2 linked regions of the Homo sapiens genome follow. The protein of the gene in region 2 binds, or shares a complex with, the protein of the main gene of each other region. Each region holds a gene or a part of one and is shown on either strand. Other genes may lie near its edges.

Region 1 (3,914 bases), on a different chromosome or scaffold from region 2:
GTTTCTACCAAAAATTATTAAAAATCAGCTGGGCATGGTGGCATGTGCCTGTGGTACCAGATACTCAGGAGGCTGAGATGGAAGGATTACTTGAGCCCAGGAGGCGGAGGCTGCAGTAATCCGAGATTGCGCCACTGCACTCCAGCCTGGGTGACAGAGCAAGGCCCTGTCCCCAAAAAAAACCAAAAACACACATACACACAAAGAAATCAAGCTAAGATTCTGAACCTTGATAAAAGCCACAGGCAGAAACTACTATCTAAATCAAGACAGAAGAAAATCTTCTGGAGTCAAGGCACACAGAAATTCACAAGACTTCAACGCTCAAAGCCAAACACTGATTGCCTGATGGCCTCACAGCCCTGCTCTAAGGAGCCCAAACTAGCAATCACAGGGTTACATGAGGAAGGAACCTCGAGTCTCTAGAAGATTAAAATAAGAAGATGCAGTAAAAAGGAGGCTTATAGCCATGGGACATCTCACCGATTCTCGGAAGCCATCATACTTGTAGACATGGCCATTCTTTGTAAGCAGTTTAAGTCCATGGCCCAGAGCAACACGGCGCCAGATACCTTCTGTTAACTCCCCAGCCTGGATGTTGTCCACTTTGCCTGTCTTGCTATTCTTGAAGATGATGCCCTGACGGCTCAACCTCAGTCGACCATCATTCTGTAAGAAAAGCAGGCCCAGATGCATGGAGACAGTACACAGCATGTCCTGGGTTCTACAGCTCTACCTAACACACATTCCTGCTGCAAGTGGACTGGCCAGATTATCAATGCAGGAGCAACAGCTGAGGGTGCCAAGGAGTCTAGATTCTAAACCAGACTCTGGTATCTAGAACCCTTAACAGATTCTCAGTTTCCTCATTTGTAAAACAGGAATTGGGAACTGAACAGCATATACGGTCCCTATAACTCTGAGACTATCTCTCAGTATTGCCTTGAGTTGGTGGAGACACTAGGTACACATTATACTGAGTCTTCTTTTTCCAAAATAACGTTACCAAAGCAAGCTCTCATTAATGGACAAAAACTCTACCCTCCTTCCTTCTCTCTACTTGTATCACCTGTCCAAGCCATTCTCACCATGGAACCTTTCACCTCCTGATAGACGTCGTTGAACTCCAGTGTCTCTGCCATGTCGACCCCTGCCTGTGGTGGCCTGGGCAGAGCCCCAGGCTGCACAAGGGAAACCAAGTAAACTGGGAGCTGGGCCCCAACTCCTGAGTGGGTGTGCGGATGCTCAGCAGGTTGGGAATCTGAATTCAAGAGGAAGACAGATAAGCATGAAAGACAGCACCTCGCTGTGCTCACGGATGGAGCCAGGTAGCAACTCCCAGCTGCGCCTGGATGTCTCAGGATTTCCTCTGCCTGGAAACCTACAGACGGACGCTGCAGTGCCCGAGGGTCCAGGTCCAGGCCTGGGTGGAGAACCGGGCCCGGAATACCGCTGACACCCAACCCGACGCCCGCTCTGGCCGCTCCGGCGGGAGCCATGGCAACGAGCAGCGGAACCCCAGGGTCTGCCAGGAGCCCGCACATCGCACGCGACCCAATCCAGCTCAGAGTGCAGGGTTTCCCTCGCACCGCTCCCACCACCCCGCGGCCCCAGACCCACGGTTCACCCCCGCCCCACATAATGGATTCGCCCGCTCCCCGCGGTTGCGAACGCGGAATGGTCCATGTCGAGGGTCCCGTGGGGGAGCGGGGCCCCTGCCTTCCTGGGACCGGGGACGACCACCACCTACCTCCTCAGGCTGCGGCCTCGCGAGGGCCCCGGCGCGAGAGGTGGGCGCGCTGGGGGGACGCGGGGGGGGCGCGGGGAGGGGGATGGGGGGACACCGGGGAAGCTTTTCCCGCGTGCGCGGCCCCGCGTCCCGCCACCGGAAGCCGTACACAGGCCACAGAGAGGATGAGCTGGCTAGAGAGACGCGAGTCGGGCCCGCCTGCGAGACAGTCGCATAGAGCGTCAGCGACTCTGGAGGACCTGAGGGAAGGGTGGTTGCCGTGAAGCCTCTCTCACCCAGGGGGAATCCGGCCTAGAAAATGTGTGTAGGGCTCTTTAGAAACTACAGACACTTCTTCAGTCGAGACTAGATACTAAAGAGAAATTGTGTAGTTTTATTGTATCAGACTTAGTACAGGGGTGGGGTGGGGGTGTGTATTGGAATGATGCGTGCCCGTTTCTCTGCAAAATAGTTTCTATGTCATGGAAAGGAGTCGATGGGACAAGAAGAGAAGTATTTGAACAGTTGTGGGAGGAAACGACCTCTCCCACTGGCTGCGGAGAGTATGCGGGTGTTGGTGTCATCGTGGGTGCACTGCTTTCTGGCTGAACTGTCAAGTTCACTGTCTACACCCAAAATTTTCACATCCTTAACCGAAAATTATAGGTACCTCCAAGAGGCTGGCAAACGGCCTTATCCAGTTCAAGTCCTGGTGTCAGATTCACCTTGGAGCCAGAACTGATTTGAAACCACATCATCCTGTGGTTGCGGAAGCCAGGTCTCCCCCGTATAATCCCAGAGTGCATTTTGCAACATCAGAGACCAGACCTGGAAAAGATGTTTTAGTTTTTCTACCCCAACCTCCTTTTACTGATGGGAAAACTGAGACCCAAAGGGGAGTGAGTTGCCCAGGGTCTCAGTGCGTTGGCAACAAGGCTAGGTAGGACCCAGACCTCCTTAACACCACCAGTCCAGTTATCTTCTGTCATAATCACAGTGACTGTATGTTCAGAATGACTATTGATATGTGTCCTACATGAAGACATTAGTACAGAATATGTAAGCTCAAGATTTCCCTGACAATCAATACACCAGCTTGCTAAATCAATCCTGGGGTAAGAGACAACAGGAATGCACCCTTCTCCCCTGAACTCATAGCTTTAACCTCTGAGTAGTGGCTATTCCAGCATTATCTAGCAAAATAAATTCAACTGGGTTTAATAAATAGATATTGAGGGCCTATTACTACTTTAGCACACTTCTCAGATTTGAGGAAACTTGAACAAGGTGAAAACATCCCCGGCCAGGCACGGTGGCTCACACCTGTAATCCTAGCACTTGGGGAGGCCAAGGCAGGGAGATCACTTGAGGTCAGGAGTTTGAGACCAGACTGGCCAACGTGGTGAAGCCCCGTCTCTATTAAAAATACAAAAATTAGCCAGGCGTGGTGGCGGGTGCCTATAATCCCAGCTACTCAGGAGGCTGAGGCATGAGAATTGCTTGAACCCAGGAGGCAGAGGTTGCAGTGAGCTGAGATTGTGCCACTGCACTCCAGCCCGGGTGACAGAGCGAGACTCTGTCAAAAAAAAAAAAAAAAAGAAAGAAAGAAAAAGAAAAAAAAAAGGAAGGGAAGGAAAGAAAGAAAAAAAAAAAAAACAGAAAAAAAAACCCAGCCCCAACCTTTCAGGAAAACATAATCTAACAAATGACTTTAATAAATAAAGTGACAGTTAAAAAAAAAAGAAGTTGGCACATATACACCGTGGAATACTATGCAGCTGTAAAACAGGATGAGTTCATGTCCTTTGCAGGGACATGGATGAAGCTGGACTCCATCATTCTGAGCAAATTATCACAAGGACAGAAAACCAAACACCGCATATTCTCACTCATAGGTGGGAATTGAACAATGAGAACACTTGGACACAGGGTGGGGAACATCACACACACCAGGGCCTGTCGCGGGGTGGGCGGAGTGGGGAGGGATAGCATTAGGAGATATACCTAATGTAAATGACGGGTATATTTACAGTTAACGGGTGCAACACACCAACATGGCACACGTATACATATGTAACAAACCTGCACGTTGTGCAGGTTTACCATAGAACTTAGAGTATAAGAATAATAATAAAAAGAAAACAAAACAAAAAAGACGTGCTAACTGCTATGCTACAGGTAGAGC
Region 2 (3,914 bases):
GAATTTGTGGAGAAGAGTACAGGAAGGAAGAGTTTCCCAGAGAGAAAGCTCCAGAGATCTGCAGAGGGGTCCCCTCAAGTCTTTGGTGGAGGGATGATCTACACATTCATGAGAAAACTGGAACTGCATAAAGAAGCACTGGAAAGCAGTAGGACAGACAACTCCCAATCTCACACAGAACTAGAAATAAATCGTGTTCCAGTGGATTTATTTCCACCACCTTTCCACCAGCTTCAGCAGAGAGATCTCACAATCCACAGGGCATCAGGCAGACTCTGAAGAGTATTGCCTCGTAGTAAGGCCAATTACTTGGAAGTTTTTGAGTGAAACTTTTAAAGGCTGTTCTAAATCCACACTAATAGACATTTGAGAACAAGCCTTGAAAGATCAAACAGAATCCAACTAACTTGACTGCATCCTAGAATAACCTCATCTCTAGTAAAAAAAAATTAGCTGGGTGTGGTAGCACATGCCTGTAGTCCCAGCTACTTGGGATGCTGATGCAGGAAGGTTGCCTGAATCCAAGAGTTTGAGGCTGCAGTGAGCTGTGACTGCACCACTACACTTGAGCCTGGGCAACACAGTGAGACCCTGTCTCAAACAACCACCACCACCACCACTACAAAATATGTAGAAAATATAAAGATAATGGGTGAAGAGCAGAAAAGGATGCTTCAAAAGCTATTGTAAATATGCTCTACATTGACTGGGTGCAGTGGCTTGTGCCTGTAATCCTGGTACGTTGGGAGACCGACGTGGGAGGATCGCTTGAGCCCAGGAGTTTGAGACCAGCCTGGGCAACACTGAAAACAAAAAAGATCTTAGATTTTGATTTTCTTTGTGTTAAGTATGCACAAGCTATTGTTGGGAATTCAAGAAAAAGTGAACAGCTCCGTTATCTAATAGATCTCAAGTTTTCAAGTCCTGGTCTGTAACAACCAAAAGGCAGTCTCACTTTAAGTATATCAGTAGATTTTATGCACAACATACCACATTCAAATTCTATAAAACAGGGCTCATGGGCTAAATGGGAGACTGATGGCAGATTTACTTACTTCAACCATTCCTTGATGGGGTCAAGAGAGGCTACAGGAATGGCGTTGATCATGGTCACTTTCTTGCTGTAGTCCTTGTAGACGATTACCATATCAAAGTTCTTCAGGTGAAACTGGACCCGCTCAAAGTGGATCAGCTCTACCTCATCCAATGTCACCACAAAAGGTGGCTGTCAGGGAGAAACTGAATCATTAGCATATAAGTATTTCCCCCAAAGCAATAATATTTCAAATAACTTTCATGATCTAAATCACTACATAAAAGATAACTTAAGCTGTTTTTTGGTTTTTTTTTTGAAAGACTGAGGCAGTACAACATACTAAGAAGCCACAGAAAAAGGATCTGCAAGATACAAAAATCATCCCTCAAGGAGAATAAACTCAAGGAAACTATGTGAAGGAACCATTTAAAATAAACTATTTAAAAAGACATTATCTTAAAAAATAAAAAATAAAAAAAAGAGAGATAGGTTCTTGCTATGTTGCCCAGACTGGTCTTGAGTTCCTGGCCTCAAGTGTTCCTCCCACCTTGGCCTCTAATTGTGCTGGGATTACAGGTGTGAGCCATTATGCCTGCCCTAAAGAGACTTTAAAAGTAACATTTGTTCAATGAGTTTTAAGTCTAAGTAAATATCAAAAATGAAAATGACAATAATTAGGATAAAAAACACCTATCCTTCTTTATTTTCTCTAACAATTTTCTTACTAAAAGAAAGTAAGAAACACTCACCCATTCCGTAGCATTTACCAGCGCACTACTAGTGGGCTGAAGGAGGCAGGTACTCCTATAGGGAGCTCCGTTAAATCTGGAAGAGACAAACTTTTAAGACTGAGCTCATCACGAGAGAGACTGCTCCTACCACAACAGACAAACTTCTTCCCTCTCCCCATTCCAAACAGCTCCAGCATACTCACTGGAGACTCATCCAGAGGAAGCCTCTTAAGAGTTAGCCACTCACCTAAACCCTTAAACATTTTCAAGAAAAAATGGATGTCTCAAAGATTATTAGTCATAGGAAAAAAGGATATGATATGTTAAATTATTATTAAAGGAAGAATAATTTATTGTACCAAAAGACAGACCAGTCAAACTTCAAGCCAAAAATAAGATAGGTTACCCCAAGTCCCTAAAAGGCACTTCAAATTCCAGTTCCTCCTTAGTTAGAGCCTCTACTTTCTCAATGAAATTTTTAAAGGCTGTTTTCAGTTTGTGCCTCATTTCTCGTTCCATCTGTAGAAGAAAAAAATATCAAATACAGCCATCACATTTGTTAACAGTACCTCCCCTCAAAAAGTCTGAAGTGCTTTTGTGCTTTAAAATAAAAATTCCAACTTTTAAGTTCAGGAGTGCATGGGCAGGATTTGCAGGTTTGTTACACAGGTAAACGTGTGCCATGGTGGTTTGCTGCACAGATCATCCCTGAAGTGCTTTCGTTGCCCTTCATTCTCTCGTAACTATAAAACTAACATGTACATACACCTTTAATATTTAAGGTCACCATGCCATTACCTGTCAAGCTGAGTCTGCAACCTAAGCCTAAACTCTTGTAATACCCTATCTCAGCAGATACTTGAGTTGCTCTGCACAAACAGATTCAGGGTTGTTTATTTATTTATTTATTTATTTTTGGAGATGGAGTCTTGCTAGTCGCCCAGGCTGGAGTGCGGTGGCGCGATCTTGGCCCACAACCTCTGCCTCCCAGGTTCATGCCATTCTCCCGCCTCAGCCTCCCGAGTAGCTGGGACTACAGGAGCCCGCCACTACACCCGGCTAATTTTTTTGTATTTTTAGTAGAGACAGCGTTTCACTGTGTTAGCCAGGATGGTCTTGATCTCCTGACCTCGTGATCTGCCTGTGTTGGCCTCCCAAAGTGCTGGGATTATAGGCGTGAGCCACTGCACCTGGCTATTTATTTATTGAGATGGAGTCTCACTCTGTCGCCCAGGCTGGAGTGCAGTGGCGCTATCTCAGCTCACTGCAACCTCTGCCTCTTGGGTTCAAGTGATTATCCTGCCTTAGCCTCCCGACTAGCTGGGACTACCACCACCCACCACGCCCAGCTAATTTATGTATTTTTAGTACAGACAGGGTTTCACCACATTGGCCAGGCTGGTCTCGAACTCCTGACCCTCAGGTGATCTGCCCATGTTGGCCTCCCAAAGTGCTGGGATTACAGGCGCGAGTCACCACGCCAGCCCAGTTTGTTTATAAAATACAATCCCTGAGCTTGGATTTGGCCTCATCCTCCCTCACTATCCTGCAAATACAATACTAAATTTCACAAACCTGCTCAGCATAGAGGTCATCTCGGTCATGCATATGCTGATGTTTCCCCAAGTCCGTGGTTATCTCTCCCACTTCTGTGTAGAACTGCACATCCGTGTGCCGCTTCTTCCCAAACATGATGGCATTCTGTCGGCATAAAACAGAAAGAACACAGAAGTCAGAAACACAAAGGTATCTGTGATGGAAATGGCAGTGATCCAAACTTGGGCCTCCACAGCATGCATGCAAAAATAATTAAACCACCCCTGGTGTCATCATAAATAATGATGCTTGGGAATGGAAACAGTGTACATTTGAAAAAGTGCTGTGCTCCTACTTATTACAGGAACTTTGGAAATCATGTTGGTAACAAATCTTATCTAAAGCAAAACTTCATTTTAGAAAGAGAAATCTGGAGATCTCGTATAAAACATTTGCTGGCCACCATATAACACACCAAAGGAACAAACATGCTTATGAGCCCCTTCTAGATGCCAGGCCTTGTGGCCTTTAGAGGCATTATTTTATTTAATCCTCTTAAATGTTCTTAAGTGAGAGGTGATTTTTTCATCACTTTTTTGTTTTTTGTTTTT

What was found.
Region 1: SUPT16H (region 2) and SSRP1 share a complex: the UniProt entries of both Homo sapiens proteins name them as parts of the FACT complex.

Annotation. Positions count from the first base shown.
Region 1 is NC_000011.10:57,333,980-57,337,893, forward strand, and holds the start of SSRP1 (FACT complex subunit SSRP1), read right to left. Parts: upstream 1,914-3,914; 5' UTR 1,751-1,913; exon of another isoform or gene 1,641-1,750; coding exon of another isoform or gene 1,143-1,640; coding exon 1,089-1,142; intron 670-1,088; coding exon 484-669; intron 1-483. UniProt on the Homo sapiens protein: Component of the FACT complex, a general chromatin factor that acts to reorganize nucleosomes. The FACT complex is involved in multiple processes that require DNA as a template such as mRNA elongation, DNA replication and DNA repair.
Region 2 is NC_000014.9:21,356,142-21,360,055, forward strand, and holds part of SUPT16H (FACT complex subunit SPT16), read right to left. Parts: intron 3,469-3,914; coding exon 3,343-3,468; intron 2,287-3,342; coding exon 2,174-2,286; intron 1,862-2,173; coding exon 1,786-1,861; intron 1,226-1,785; coding exon 1,056-1,225; intron 1-1,055. UniProt on the Homo sapiens protein: Component of the FACT complex, a general chromatin factor that acts to reorganize nucleosomes. The FACT complex is involved in multiple processes that require DNA as a template such as mRNA elongation, DNA replication and DNA repair.